2 separate regions of the Homo sapiens genome follow, and region 2 is linked to region 1. Evidence: fine-mapped expression QTL. Tissue or cell type: transverse colon. Region 1 holds a variant in brackets; the other region holds the start of a gene. All regions are shown on one strand. Distances are from middle to middle.

Region 1 (7,936 bases):
AGAATTACAGACTGCAGTGAAGCTAGGAAAGTCACTGTCCTCCCCCTATCCAAGGTACAATTATCTAGCAGGACCTCTATGATGTCATGCAGTGGTTTAGGGCCCAAGACCTCAGGTCTCACCTCCCTGGGCTGCCTGGGGTTCCTGCAGCAGCCACTGCCCTGCCCAATCCCTCCCATACCCCACCATGTTGGTGGGTACCCCCAACCTGCTGACACTGGATGAAGCTGATGCCACCTGGACCCTCATCAAGGATAAGGTAGGTAAAGTAAGGAGGCTAAAGAGGAAGCAACGAAGTGTGACCTGCATGGGTCTCAGCAGCTTGTGAGTAGGAAGGGGTGGGAAGTCTGAAAACAATAATAACCAACATTTACTCACTGCTTCCATATGTGCCAGGCACTGCAGTAAAGTTATTGGCACGAACCGCCCCATTTAATGACAACTACAAAAACAGTAAAAAAGGTTCACTGAAAAGCAACGTATAGGGAATTATGAGCAAAGAGGAGATACGCTAAGTCAGGGGTGAGACAGGAGATCAGGAAGGCTTCCTGGAAAGAGTGACATTCTAGCTAGGCAAGCAGGAGTTATTCACACAAAGAGGGAGAGGAGAACCTGACAAAAAGTGCTTAATAAATACCTGAATTAATGAGCATGGGAGGGTGGTGAGTGTATAGTAATTTAATAGTAATTAAATGTAGAGTATTTGTAAAAACAAGGAGAGGAAAAAGAACAACTCATATTTGAGAACTCCTAATAATCTTCTAGAGCAGAGTTCAAAGAAGCAGTGGTAAAAATAAAGCCAAAGAGATATAGGGGCTAGTCTTAGAACCAGGACTTCCTATAGAACCAGCTTCCTATAGAATCTGAACTTTATCTGAAACTCTTTCACAGATCTCCTCCACCTTAACTTCCACAAAATAAGAAATTTGGATTTTGAGGCAAATTTGTATATTTTAAGGAGCAGGACAATCTCAGCTGTATCTGGGTTGCAGATATCCAACAAATCCTACCAAATCACTTTTCAGCTGCAGACTGGAAATTTCAGATCAGAGAATTTAGAATCAGATTCTATGTGATTTGAAGGAAGGTGAATTTAAAACATTCATAGAAGTCAGCCTACCAGGCTTAAAAAAAAAAAAAATCTTAAAGCAGTGCCTACCACACTCAAAGAAGATTTAATGGCATGCTGCTTCCATTCCAAATAGGGTAGCTGCTTACCACAAAGGCCAGCTTCCCAGGGAAGCAAAAACTGGAGAGCTCAAGGTCTTCCCAAGTATTAGAGCAACTGGTTTCAGCAGTGTAGAAGGTTGGTCCTGGACTAGATCAAGCAGAATTAGATTGAAAATAAACAGTCTCCCACTATTAGAAAGCTATGCCATCTCTGAGTATCAGAAAAACTCACTATCCTATTTAAATTGAAAATTGTCAGGAAAATCGGGGTAGAGATATGCAGGATAAATCACTGGCATTACGGGGCAAATTCAAGGATTAGGTCACCTTTAAGTGACCTGGTTTCCTGTGTCCAAAACCACGGACAGTTTACTGAACATATGGTAAAAACATTTGGCTAAACAGAATGTGGCTCAAGAGCTCCACATTCAGAATTTGAAGCAACCAAGAGACATCTAGGAAAACAATATTCCACCATCACTTTCCTGGGATGCCCCTGGAAAACCTAAATTTGTGGGCCTAAGGTCCATATAATTTCTATGAAGAAGCAGAAGTTCAGTAGGAGCACATAGTAGTCTTAAATAGTGATTCTACCAAGAACACAGTCTCCCTAACAAAGAACCGAGCTCCTTATTTTTCCTATTTTAGGATAACCACTGTGGCTGTCAAGGTTAAGGAGGGTTAGAATTAGACAACTTAATGCCTGTCAGCATATAGGAAGAGCGTATGGGGAATAAAGAGCCTCCAGCTAAACCAGAGATTCACCCTTTTAGCAGAAACTTGGATAATAAGCACCAGATATATTAAATGTCACACTCCTATCAGAGGGGCCTCTTCTAGAGACACTCCCATTTGTCTTATTTGTGTAGGATCCTTGACACCAAAGGAGCAGTTAGTGTGAGATTCTGATGTCATGCTTGGTGCCTCTGATTTCATGGTCATGGGGCAAAGCATTGCATCCAAAAATGTCAACCCACCAGTGTTCTGCTCTCTCCCTGGAAACGCAACTGGTCCTTCTCAGAGCCCCACCCAAAAGGAAGTGTTTTCCAGTGAAGCAAAGGAGAAGGAATGATGGGAAACTGTCCCATGCAGACCACAAAAGAACATCAGTTATTCCTTCAGCCAGGTGACAAGACAGTAGTCTACAAGCTACCTCAGCTTATCCAAGGTGCAGATGCAACTCCATAGTTAGCTACCTTCCTCTTATGCTAGGAGGCAGTACTTCCAAAACAGCTTTGTAGAAAAAGCAGATCAGCCTTAAGGAGCCACTGGTGAATTCTACCAGAAGGCCAACAAAGAGGGCAATGCCATCAGTAGGGGCATAGATGTGCGAAATTTGGTCCTGGAGGTAGGGAGTAGAGTACAGCACTGTAAGCACTGGGCTCAAATATAAGAGATGCCCAAAGAGGAAATTCTGTGTGCCCTTGCTCCCTAGTAGAGCAGAGAACCAGAAACATCAGCCACAAAATCCTGAATGGGTTGAAACCATACTTAAGTACAATTACTAGAGAGGCTCTTATAGGTTTCCCAATTAGTCATGAAATAAACTTTCCAGGGTTACCAACCCCAAAAAGGCCATGATGAAACAAACAAACAAACAAACAAACAAACCACACACACACACACACGATTAACTAAAATCCCTGAAAGTATACCGTAACTAACATTATAAAGATGAGGCCTCAAATTCCCTACAAGAACTACCCCTTGCAGCTAGGGTAGAAGGCATATACTATGAGGTAAGAGATATGGTATAAGAATGGACATTCCAAATCTATTTCTGCGTAACCTACTATTGATTAAAGACATCACCCATGTAACCAGTCACCTAAGAAGAATCCTTAAAGATTCTTTTCTCTTTTTCTTGAGACTCTGTGGAGTGCAGTGGTGCCATCTCGGCTCACTGCAACCTCCGCTTCCCAGGTTCAAGCAATTCTCCTGCCTCAGTATCATGAGTAGCTGGGATTACAGGCGTGTGCCACCACACCCAGCTAATTTTTCTATTTTTAGTAGAGACAGGGTTTCACCATGTTGGTCAGGATGGTCTCCAACTCCTGACCTCAGGTGATCCACCTGTCTCGGCCTCCCAAAGTGCTGGGATTATAGGCATGAGCCAGGGTGCACAGCCGAGGATTCTTTTTTCCCTACCTCCTGAGTGACTAAGTTCTACTAATTCTATAACCTAAATATCTCTAATATCTTCCCTCACTATTTTAGTTCAGGACCTTATTATGCCTTGCCTGGAGTATTGCAATACTCTTATTTTATGACTTCCTATTAAAAATTAGCTTTCTGGCCAGGCGCGGTGGCTCACATCTGTAATCTCAACACTTTGGGAGGCTGAGGCAGGCGGACTGCCTGAGCTCAGGAGTTCAAAACCAGCCTGGGCAACAGAGTGAAACCCCATCTCTACTAAAAATACAAAAAACTAACCAGGTGTGGTGGTGGGTGCCTGTAGTTCCAGCTACTTGGGAGGCTGAGCCAGGACAATCACTTGAACCCAGGAGGCAGAGGTTTCAGTGAGCCGAGATCGCACCACTGTACTCCAGCCTAGGCGACGAAGGAGAACCGACTCAAAAAAAAAAAAAAAAAAAAAATTAGCTTTCAGAAACACCTATCTGATCCTGTTCCTCCTACCCAGAGGCCTTCAGGCGGCTTCCCACTGCCTTCAGGACAAAATTCACTTGACATACACACAAGCCTTTCATAATCTAGTTCCTGTGTGCCTTTCCCTCCTCATACCATACATACCAGCAATATAAAATTATGTGTTCCTAAATGTGCCCCCCTTGATTTGTAAATTCAAGTTTTTTCACCGACTCTTATGCCTGAATTGACCATTCTCCTACCTAGATAATTGCTTCAAAACTCAAGTATCACCATCTAGAAACCTTCCTTGATCCTCTTTCCATGAAAGGTAAAGACTGTTCAATCACTTCCTGTCTCCTTCACACCTTGCTCTCTATTAATATTTTACATAGCAGACTGTTTACATTTTTGTGTTCTCCAGTAGACTAAACTATATTAGGACAAAGACAAAGTCTCATTCTTTTATGTTTTCCCAGTACTTAGATAGTTTGACACGTAAACATTCAAGGTTTTGCTGCCGGAGAGCTGGGAGGTAAGCAGAAAGCATAAATCTGAACACATTATAGAGATGTAACTGAACGTGAACCTGGGGGTCAATTTAAAGTAGGCAACCAGTTAACTTCTGACCCTAAGTCCCTGACCTATAAACTGGCCACCTGCAGGTCATCGAGGAGCACTTTGGGCCCAATGCAGTAGCAGTACCTTTCCTGTCAGATGCAGCCTGCTATGACCTACTGGGTGTGCTGGTAAAACAGTCCCGCCCAGCCCATACCCGCCTGGCTTTGCCAGGTCGGCAGGGCCGGAGGGCACTGAAACCAGTGGGGCCACTACCAAGCCTCCTGGAGCAGGCAGGATCTGAGGGTGCCTTCGCCCACTGCACTCGGGAATACTCACCAAATGGCCGAGCAGAGAGAGCCTATGAAGAGACGCGAATGTTGGATGGACAGCCCTGCAAGATCCGCCTACATATGGGTGACCTGCGCAAGAAGGTTGCCTTCCTGTTGCTGCCACCAGGGCAGGTGAGCCTACAGCAGACTCTTCCCTGGCTCCGAAGCACCCACAGCATCTATGTCATCTACCAGGTCTTCTCTTGTTCCTGGCTGCAGCTGGGGCTGACGTCTACAGCCCGTGAGCCCCAGCTCCTCCGGCTACTTCGGTCATTACCTGTTGCCTTCTCCTGCCTCAAGTTTTCACTGCAGTCTAAGGGCGTGCTGGGACCACAGAAGCCTCTCACTAAAGACCCATTGCCCCATGGGGCCAACTGGGTCAGACCCAACCTCAGCATCATGCCGCCTCTGGCCCCCACATCAGCACCTGCTGATACAACTGAAGCTGCTGATGTGCCCCCACCTGTCCCAGCCCCACCTACGCCACCTCCCCAGGAAGGGCCAGAGGACAAACCCACCAGATTCTCCTACAAGGGCCGAAACCCCTTCTGGAGGGGGCCCCAGATACTGTCAGGTACTACTAGGGGAAATGATGATGAGATGGATGGGAGGGACAAAGTGAAGGAGGGAGAAGGCATGAGAATTAAGTATGTGAGGAATCCATTACTCAGCACAGGGCTCTGGTGAAAGAGATGGAATGAGGGAGACTGGGGAGGGTGAGATGGAATGAGGAGGCCCTAGGAAGGGGATTGGGATGGCACAGAGGACCAGAGGGAAAAGCTAGGGGGGGAAAAGACCAGCCATGAGTCAAGCTGTGACTATCCCCAACCCTGGCAGAGAACTGGCTCTTCAGCCCCCGCAGCCCTCCACCAGGAGCCCAGGGTGGGGGCCCCAGGGACCCCGACGGGCACTCCATGTCCCTGCCCCTGCTGCAGGGTCTATCCTCAGAGTTCGACAGTGACGACTGAAGCTGAAGCAAAAGATTCCGGGGGCAAAGCCCCCAAGATCTGGCATAGGGGTACTGGTCTCTAATAAACATCAGCTGCTGCTCCCCCAAACCATCCTGGGCCCATGCTGCTTATTCCTTCTGGGATCCAGAGAAGAGGGAAGAGTCCCTTCACCCTCTAAGGGCATAAGGGGTACCTTGAAACCTTGGCAGCAATGTCCTTACCAAAGAGAAAATACTTCTGACCACCTCCCCGACTATGTACAACCTTTTCTGGGGCCCCAGCCCCACAGAAAAAAATGGGAAAGAAAAATGAGCACAGAATAGAGATTTCCCTTTTATACATATTGCAACAAGTTCTCCATAAAACATTCATCTGAAATAAATTAAAAAGTCCTTTTG[C/T]CACTGCCTCCAAACATAAAAAGGAGCCTGTGCCCTAGCCCCAGCCCGGGCCACCCATGGCCCTGATTGTCCATGGAAGAAAGTTAAGGATTGAGGGGCCCACAGCCTGAGATGAGAGGGCCAGATCCTTCCTCTGAAGTCTCCAACAAGAAAGGCGAGGTGACGGCATGAGCCTGGGAGATGGCAGCCAACTCCTTGAGAAATTCAGGGAAAATGACTGCACAGTAGACAGCATTCTTGACTCGAAGAGCCTCACCTTGGCGTTCAGGGGCCCCGCCCCGGGTGAGTAGAACTGGAGTTGAAGCCCCAGGGGAGCCCCCACTTAGGCCAAGTCCTGCTCCGTCTCGCCCAGGCTGAAGGACCAATTGTGCCGCCTGCCGGGCCCTGGTTGGACTGTGTGCATGCCGCAGGAGTAACTCCCCCAAGGATGGCCTCCGGCTCTTCACTGGGAATAAACAGGGGTATCATGAAGGTGCTGGGATCAGGGAACCTCCCTTGGACTGAGAGGGGAGATTCCCCCACCCCCTAGGTTCTTGGACTTCTCCTTTAGGGTTCTGAGGAAATGGAAAAAAGGACAAAATGGACCAGAAATGAACCTCAGGTACCATTTCCTGTCCCATCCCTGAAGTTGACTCTGAGGAGTAGAGTGAGGAGTTCTTTCTCACTCCAACACCAAAAATACTGCCTGCCCAGCCTTTTTCCCTCTATCCAGCCTCCCCACCCAGCCAACCATCCTTCTCAGTCTTAATCAATCAACACTTTAGCCACTTCATTCCCAGTTAAGATCCATTCCTTCTCCATGCCCTCTCACCCTGACGAATTCTCCTATTTCCAATCACTAATCTACCACCACCAAGCTATTTCTCCTCTGTCTATAGCATGCCCTGATTTCATGCTTCCCATCACCCTTCCGAACTAGTCAACCACTTCCCTCTTCCCCAGCCTATCTATAACACCCAACCCACATCCTCTGCTCCTACAATATCCACAGGGGCTATATATGCAATTATAGTTCAGTGACAATTTCACTTCTGTCATGCTCTACTGTCCCTCCAAAATATGCTCTTCACCATTCACCACTTCACCATTCACCAGTCCCTGTCCTGCACCAAAGCCTCTCTCCCACTGGTTGCGGCCAATTTCAAGTCAGCTTAGGCTCAAGTGAGCCATTCAAAACAACGTCCTCTTGCCTCTAACATTCTGCCTAGATTTCTGGGTCTGGATCCATATCTACTATAAAGGCCTAGATCATAATAACAATTCCCATTTCCTACATCTAATACTGGCTACAGAAATACCATACCGAGCTATTAAATTTGGCATTCAGAGCCCTTCACAATCAGGCTCACACTCCTCCTACAATTTCTTTTCAAACTCTCCACACCCCACCTTGCTTTTGCATCCACATCTATCATCTTGGAACCCTTCAGGCACTTTTCATGCGCCTGTAGCTCCCTCTGCCTAAATTTTCTTTTCTCCACTTTTTTCATCATTCTACGTGAAATTTTACTATCCCCACTTCTCTAGGAAGCCTCCTCTGATTTGTCTTCCACTGACTCCCAATTTTACTTCCCTTAACTCAACATACTTAATTTATTTCTATGTCTTCTACCTCATACACTAACCTGTGAACTTAAGGGCCTAGACTGTGTCTTGTCTACCTTGTCTACCTGGCCCCTCTAAAGTGACCCCAGCACCAGAACTGTAGAAGGAAGAAATATTCACAATACTAGACCATGAAGAAACCATGCAAAAGAACTTTACCTGAGACTTCACAGCTGTGCAGTAACTTTTATGGTACTCTCTTCCCAACCCATACACTTTTCTCATTAAGCCTCCATCTCTGCTTTCAGCATATCATTTTGCCTTCTACTTCGATTAGTAAATAATGAATGATGTGAAATCCCTTACTCCTCTACACTTCACAACTACATTGGCACAT
Region 2 (7,936 bases), 24 kb after region 1:
GGTGCCCATTATTGCTCCACCACTTGACCAACAAAGGGTACTGCTCATGGAACCAAGGAAGATTAGCCTCCAGGACCCTTCCTCACCCACCTGCCCACCGCAGTTCTACAATCCCATTTCAAAGACCTCAAGAGAAGATGTTGGAATCAGCATCTCAGATTCCAAAAGCCAATACTTAAACTGGGCCCTGTTCACATACAACAAAAGCATAAAAGAAAGCTATAGTTTGGTATTCCTATCACCTAATTAGACTCTCTGCAATGTTCAGAACAAGACAAAGAAAAGGTTAAAATCACCACCCTCTCATGGTGTCCTTTCCTCCCATAGCAAAGTCCAAAAAAAAAAAAAAAAAGCAGAACCTGCCACTCTCCAGATTTACCTTCAGGCTCAGCCACAGAGTAAAAAGGGGAACGAGCTGATCTCTCAGACCCAAAATGGCCAAGATCAGGCACTCACCTTATAGCCCAAAATACAGCCTTACAGCCACACACAGCAAGGGTGACAACCAACCTCGGAACTGCAGATACAGGGCAGGAAGTGGCTCAGCCTCACTTATGAACCTTTGCCCTGGGAGAGGCAAAGAGGAGGGAGCTGGGGGAAGGGATATACCTGCAACACCTACATTGGACAGAGAGACCAAAATGATCTTCCAAGAACAGGTCAGTAAAATTCTGTGGTGTCTCTCTCCTTACAGTGGCTCTTCCTAGGCAAGAAGACTAATTACTGACATAAGGAGGATGAATGGGCTGTTACCCTAAATACTGGAAGTTGAATGACCTGATTAAAATCTCATAGAAATACAAAGGGAAAAACCAACCAACCAAAAACACCACCTACTAGGAATTTATACTAGAGCTCAGCTTACACATTTCTTCCCTGCTTTTCCATCCCTCAGACAAATGGGATGTCAGGGTATGGTCCCAACTCATTCCCTTCCCTCCCCGCAATATCACTTCTGCTTCTTGCAGGGATCTCCTCATCTGACTCCAGCGGGGTCCATCCAATTCACAAAAGTGAACCTCTATTCTACAGTGACTCCTCTTTACAGCAATGAATCCTCATGTCACACACAGTTATCTCTACCTTGACAGAGATGTCAAAAAGGAGGTGAAACTGAACTAGATCCTAAAGGATAAGGAAAGTTCACTGGGCAGAGAAGAAAAGGCATTCCTAGTAGAGGAAGCAGCTATTACAAAGATTTCAAGGCTCAAAAAAGCAGCATGGTTTTAGGGAACTGTGAACAATTTATTCAAACTAGAATACAGACTAGGGAGTGGCACACGAGACTGGAGAGGTAAGCTGAAGCTAAATGATGCCATATTAAGAAATTTGGATGTTGTCCTACAGGACACAAAGAGCCAAAAGTTTTTAAGCCAAGGAGTTCGGAGATCAGATGTGTATTTTCAGAAAAATCATTCTAGGGATGGACCAGAAAATAGCAAGTTTTAAGACAAAAAATTGTTTTAAAAAAATCATATGAGGTGAGGGGGAGCTAAACTAAAGCTTTGACAGTGAAGATGTAGCAATGGAGATATAGAGAAGAGAGATAACACAGAGCGAAATGTATTAAGATTCTAGCAAATGATTGAATGCAGGGAGTAAAAGAGCAGAAAGTATGAAAGATGACAATGTAGTCCTTGCCTGGAGTGAGATAGGGGATATGAGGGCAAAGTCGGGCTTTTGGGGCAAAGACTATGAATTCTGTTTTGGACATGTTAATTTTGAGATACTTGTGGAGATACACAGATCAATAAACATGTATACTTGGAATACAGGGAAAGATGACACTAGATACAAAGGAGTAATCAACTCATTATGATATATTTTCTTTTTTTTTTTTTTTTTTTTCTTGAGGTGGGGCCTCTGTCACCCAGGCTGAAGTGCAGTGGTGTGACCTCATCTCACTGCAACCTCTGCCTCCCAGGCTCAAGCAATCCTCCCACCTCAGCCTCCGGAGTAGCCAGGACCACAAGTATGTGCAACCACACCTGGCTAATTTTTGGTGGGTTTTTTTGGTGGTGGTTTTATTGTCGTTGTTGTTGTTGTTTTGGTAGAGGCAGGGTTTCAAAATGTTGCCCAGGTTGGTCTCAAACTCCTGAAGTCAAGCGATCTGCCTGCCTCAGCCTCCCAAAATGCTAGGCGTGAGCCACTACGCCCAGCCTATTATGATATATTTTCACATTTCACATTATCTCTCTAAATTGAAATTATGTTTTCATGTGTCTCTCTCTCCCTACTAGACTGAAAATCCCTTGAGAGCTCGGATGACCATGTTTTATTCATGTTGTTATCCCATAAAATGTGAGCATCACAAGCACAGACTATATGTTGAAGAAGTATTTGTTGAATGAATAAACGAATTCATTCTCCTAGCACTTAGTAGAGTGCCTGGCACAGAGCAGATATGGAATAAATGATTAACACAGTACCCTAAACATGTTTCTATCTCTACATCATCATCCTCATGTATGTTTCATCCTCTCAGAACTACCACTCACTATATGATACAAATCAAAATCCATTATACTTAATGCACTACTATTTCAACAGAGTTTGGGATAGCAAACAATAAGCTTACCAAATCCAGTGCTTTCTCCATTATAACAAGGATTTAGACAGTCCCTAAGAACCATCTAATATTTGATTTGATTCATCCTATCACTATCATGATATGATCCACTATCAAGATGTGATCCAGGTATTATATATACCTGTTCCAATGTCACTGCGACAGCATTAAACATAACCTTCATCCCTATGTCACTCTCACAGTCCCTTTTCTGTCTTTTGGAAATAGAACAATTACAAATCATTAAAAAATCCTCCCACATCACCTTCAGTGTCTATTATAAATCTTCTTTCCCAAAGTCTCTCTCACTCTGAGACAAAATTCTGGGTTCAGCCTTGCCACTGTATCCCTGTATGATCTCTGGCTACTGAATTTAATTTCTCATCTATAAAATGAAAGTTCCTGTCTTTGTCTACAAGGTATCTATATAAATCAGTATAATAAAATTTGAAATCCCTATGTAAAGCATGAATGCTGTTCAGATGTTAAGTTATACAGAATCATTGTATAAATGTATGCTTCCTCAACCTAATACAACAGCCACACCATCATCACTTTAAATTTCTGAAGTTCATAAAGCTATAGAAATAATTTTTAAAATTAAAAATTGGGTTGACACTTTTTATTTGGGTAAATTAGATCTTTTTTTTTTTAACCCACCATCTACTGTTACCATTACTGCATCAACGAAAGAGCACTGCAACACCAAAAGAATAGGAATGATAATCTCTGAGAATAAATTTATCTTCATGAATAACCATACTGTCTTTCTCTCCCTCCATCTTGGATAGATGATAATTTTATCATGTACAGGGTCCTTGGTCCAGTGTTTAGGAACCACTACTCTAAACTCTGAACTGTAAGTTCTGACTGACTGGGCAAGTTGCCAAGTGTTCTACCAATATGGAGGCCTGTCTGGACTCCAGAAAGAAGCAATGAGAATATACCACAGGATATAGGAGTTGGCTCTGAAGCTAAGACTCTGGAAAAGAATGGGGACTGAGGCTGTCTAATTCTCAGGAAATGGTCTCTCCCTGTCCACTGTAGAGTTAAGGAAAGACTTAACTCTTTCTGAGTCTGGAAAGAATAGGATGTCCCAACCCCATGGCTGACTAGCAGTAGAGAGGAAAATTTAGTAGTGTGAAAGTGGCCATTATCACTGAATGCCAAACCAACTTTCCAGAATTTCACGTGCATTTGGGTTGGTGGGGAGAAGAGGACCTAAAAGAATGCTAGTAAGATGAACCCAACTACAGGGTGTGGAGAGGAAGAGATAAATTTTCAGGTGGCTAAAATGTTCAGTATCTTGAGACTGATGATGATTTCACAGATGTGTACACATGTCAAAACTCATCAAACACACATTTTAAATATAATATAAACTAGCTTTTTAAAAAATTCAACTGTAAGAAAGGAGAGTAAGGCCATCCTGTTTGGGATCCTAAATATAGTACTGTATAGGGCAAACCATATGACCTCCATAAAAGTAGAATTAGCAACTGAATATGGTCAATCCAATCAAAGACCCACAGTTAAGCACAGGTAAGGAGCAACAGTGGAATAAGGTTGTCCAGAAGCAAGTAGAGAGAAAACACAAGCTGTCACAGCGCAAAACCCTTCATGAGAGGGCCCATCTTCAACTATGCAGTCCAGAGAAGGAACTCGAAGGAACTGAAGTTTCTGTGATTACTCTGTTGAAGTCTGAGCCTCAAATATGACTTTCATTACCATAGTACTATTGCCTATGACACCTTCATTTTCTCGTCCTCCAGAATATGGAAAGTCCATGGGAGCAGAGGAGTCAGGTGCACAACACTTCCATCTAAGCTGCCCTACTTTGTCTAAAACTATTGCTCTCACTGGACAGGGCAGTCCATCGAAGGAGGCCTCAGAACCAACCTCTCACCTTTATCCAAGTCTCACAAGCCCTAATTCCCTCCTCCCATGCCTCGCCTTCAACTCCCTCACCAATTTGCCGCCACCCCGCAGGCTCCCACCTGCGCCTTTTACTCTCTCTCTCCTCGCGCAGGCCTTACCCCTCACTCTAGTCCCAGGGTATCCTTCACACCAGCCCTCAGTAGCCCCAGCCCTAGTAAACCGCGTTCAGGAGTCCCTTCAACTTGGCACCTCCGAAAGCACCCAGCCTCTCACAGCCCCTCATTTGTCCACTCACCTGTAAGCTCTCACCCTCCTTCCCTATCTTAGACACTCACACCCGGACCCTCACCACCTGCCAACCCCTCACAACCAGTACAGTAACCAAACCCGTCACCGTCTTTTCCCAGTCTCTCATCCCCACAAACGACTCTCCAGGCCCTCTGGCCCATGCGTACCGTTCACTCACGGAACGCCGAACCTGGCCGGGCCCGGTTGCTGCTGCGGTGTTAGGTGAGTTCAGGCCGCCGCCATCGCTTCTCAAGCGCACCAGCCGCGCCCCGCCCCGCGCCACACGCAGCCCGCGCCCCCGCGCACCACACGCAACCGCCCGGCGTCGCACGACTGGGCAATGGCGTGCCAGCTCATTGGCTGAGCCGGACCAAACCCGAGCAAGGACGCTTGTTTCCTGGCAACGGCTAAACGCAAGGGCGGGGTCGCCGACGGCTATCCGAGGGAGGAGCACCGCCTCTCCTCTTGGTTCCGTCCCTTCGTACGTAAACCCCGCCCCTCAGAAGGACTCCGGCGTGTCATAGGCGAAGGCCTCTGGGAAGGTGGAGGCCGGCAGGGCGGAGGCGGAGCCCGGGAAGGAAAGGTGGAACCAGAGGGCAGAAGGCGGGACCTAAGGAGAGGCGATTTTTACAGGCAGGGAAAGATCAGAAGGGCGGGGCTTGGGAGAGATGGAGCCGGAAGAAAGACGAGCGAGAAAGGGGTGGGGCCATGGATTCCAGGAGACGCTTGGAGTGGAAGAGTGGGTGTGGAGGGGCGAGGCTATCACGAAAAGAGAGGAGGAATCAGTAGGTGGGCCGGGCCTGCGGAAAAGTGGAGCCCTAGAGAGGGCTGACTGCGGGCACTCTAGTTCATTTTGCTCCATCGTCGTGCATAGCTTGGTCTCTACTTTAGTACCCCAGCGGTGACTGCCCCTGGCTCCCCCAACACCGCTGTGCTGTGCTGCTCCGTCACCCCTTGAGCACTTAGTCAAGGAACACGGAATAAGTGCCTGCATGCCCAGCTGGATTCCGGATCAATTAGAACCGGCCTCTGCTCTCCAGGACCTCAGAGAATTGCAGCGTAGTGTAATAAGTACATTACTACGGGGGCCACCTAGGAGCAGCACTTAGCATGATTTGCATGTATAGAGGATGAGAGGAAGGTACGGTGAAGGAGCTTAGGGAAGACTTCCGGGAGGTGACGGTGTCTAAGCCGAGTCTTGGGAAACAAGCAAGAGTAAGATAAACTAAAATAGAAAAATAGAAGTTTCAGATAAGGCATGTAGTTTTAAAAGTACTTTACCGGCTGGGCGCGGTGGCTCACGCCTGTAATCCCAGCACTTTGAGAGGCCGAGGCGGGCGGATCACGAGGTCAAGAGTTCGAGACCAGCCTGACCAACATAGTGAAACCCCGTCCCTACTACAAATACAAAAATTAACTGGGCGTAGTGGCGCGCGCCTGTAATCCCAGCTGCTTGGGAGGCTGGGGCAGGAGAATCGCTTGAACCCGGGAGGCGGAGGTTGCAGTTAGCCGAGATCGCACCACTGCATTCCAGCCTGGGCGACAGGGCGAGACTCCGTCTCAAAAAAAAAAAAAGAAAAGAAAAAAAGAAAAGTATTTTGCCAATGTTAAATACCTGGTTTTTATCATTGTGCTATAGTTATGTAAGATCATAACGTTAGGGGAAGATGGATAAGGAATTTATGAGAACTCTGTATTATTTTTGCAACTTTTCTGTAAGCCTAAAATTAGTTCAAATAAAAAGTATTTAAAAAGAAATAGAAGTTTCAGACCAAAGGATCAGCATATACCAGGGAAAGGAAGAATGGACAGCATGTGGGAGGTGCTGTAAGAACTGCAATCAGTACAGTGTGTCGGGAGCCTAGGGAACATGTGAGGAAACATTGTGAGATGAGGCTGAAGACATGGACTGGAGAACTTTATAAACCATGTTAAGGAATTTAGATTTTATTTTTGGGATGATAGCTATAAAGAATTTTATACATAGATTGATAGTTATACAGTAACTTTGCAAAAGACCAAACAAGCTGATAAGGCCCAAACTAGAGTAGCAAAAATGCAGAGAAGTGGACATGTGGATTTTTAGAAGGTAGATCACCATGGTTTGATGATTGGGTGGATATAAGAGGAAAATAAGAGGAAGAATTAAAAACTAATGCTTAGTTTATATAAATTCAAAAACAGGTAAAACTAAACTGTGATATTAGAATTCAGGATAGTGATTATTCTTGGAAAAACATTGACTGAAAGGGGCAGAGTGGGGCTCCTGAGGCACTGGTGATGTTCTGTTTCTTGATCTGAGTGCTTGGTTATATGGGTGTGTTCACTTTGTGAAAATGTATTAAGCTATATACTTAAGGATTGTACACCTTTCTCTGTGTTTGTTTGTTCTGGTTACTATGCTATGTGACAAACCAACCCAAACTTAGTGTCATAAAAACAATAGCCATTTTATTATGTGCACAAATTCTGGGAATTTGGACGAGATGCAACAGGAATGGCTTGTCTCTATTCCATGATGTCTGGGGCCTTATTTGTAAAGCTTGAACATCTAGAGGTGGTTTGAGGCTGGTGGCTGGAAGCATCTGGAGGCTTCTTCAGTCACACATCTAATTCCTGGGCTGGGATAATGAAAAAGCTGAACTCATTGGGCAAACTGTCAAACAGAACTTCTCACAATGTGATGGGTAGGTTCCAAGAGGGAACATTCTGAGAGGGAGCTACCAGACAACACGCATTCCAAGAGAACCAGAGGGAAGCTGCATGGCCTTTTATGATCTAGCCTTAGAAGTCACACAACATCACTCCTGCTATACAAACTATCACAAGGGAGTGGTGTCGAAGAATTTGTGACCATTTTTTTTAACTGCCACAACATTATACAGTAAATAGTAATAAATGCTTGTCATAGGTTTTTTTGCTGAAAGGGCATAGATAGGAATTCTAGAAGAAAAAGTGGAGGAAGATAATGAGCTTAGTTATAGACCCAATGGGTTGAAGGTGACCGCGGGATACCCAAGTAGGAACATCCAGTGAGCAGTTAGTCATATAGATAACTGAAACTCAGGGAGAGTTCTCGGGAGCCACTATATGAGAAAGGAAGTCCTGTGGGTGACTGACGTCAATCAGACAGAGTTAGGAGGATGGCAAAAGTAGAAAGCCTAGAACAGAATCCAAGAAAAAAAAAAAACACCATCATAG

Alleles and levels. Alleles are on the strand shown, and positions count from the first base shown. SD is a standard deviation of normalised expression in the study named.
For the expression in transverse colon of the gene that starts at base 4,995 in region 2, C is the low allele of the variant in region 1 and T is the other (moderate effect, 0.50 SD a copy in GTEx).

What was found. PIP is the estimated chance that this variant, and not a neighbour inherited with it, causes the effect.
Region 2: FHIP1B starts here. The variant in region 1 is the best candidate, but not a certain one, in a credible set for the expression of FHIP1B in transverse colon (GTEx, PIP 0.79).

Annotation. Positions count from the first base shown.
Region 1 is chr11:6,205,429-6,213,364 of GRCh38, forward strand. C11orf42 (chromosome 11 open reading frame 42) reads left to right here and starts at 129. Exons shown (of 3, transcript NM_173525.3): 1 at 129-259; 2 at 4,422-5,220; 3 at 5,484-5,707. The coding sequence starts at 188. The coding sequence ends at 5,614. FHIP1B (FHF complex subunit HOOK interacting protein 1B) reads right to left here. Exons shown (of 12, transcript NM_001098794.2): 12 at 5,917-6,439. The coding sequence ends at 6,078. The variant C/T (reference allele first, on the strand shown) is at 5,995.
Region 2 is chr11:6,229,642-6,237,577 of GRCh38, forward strand. It overlaps FHIP1B (FHF complex subunit HOOK interacting protein 1B), which reads right to left and starts at 4,995. Exons shown (of 12, transcript NM_001098794.2): 1 at 4,903-4,995. It also overlaps a transcript of CNGA4 not described here. RefSeq lists silencers at 4,670-4,719, 4,900-5,199 and enhancers at 5,242-5,932, 5,330-5,409.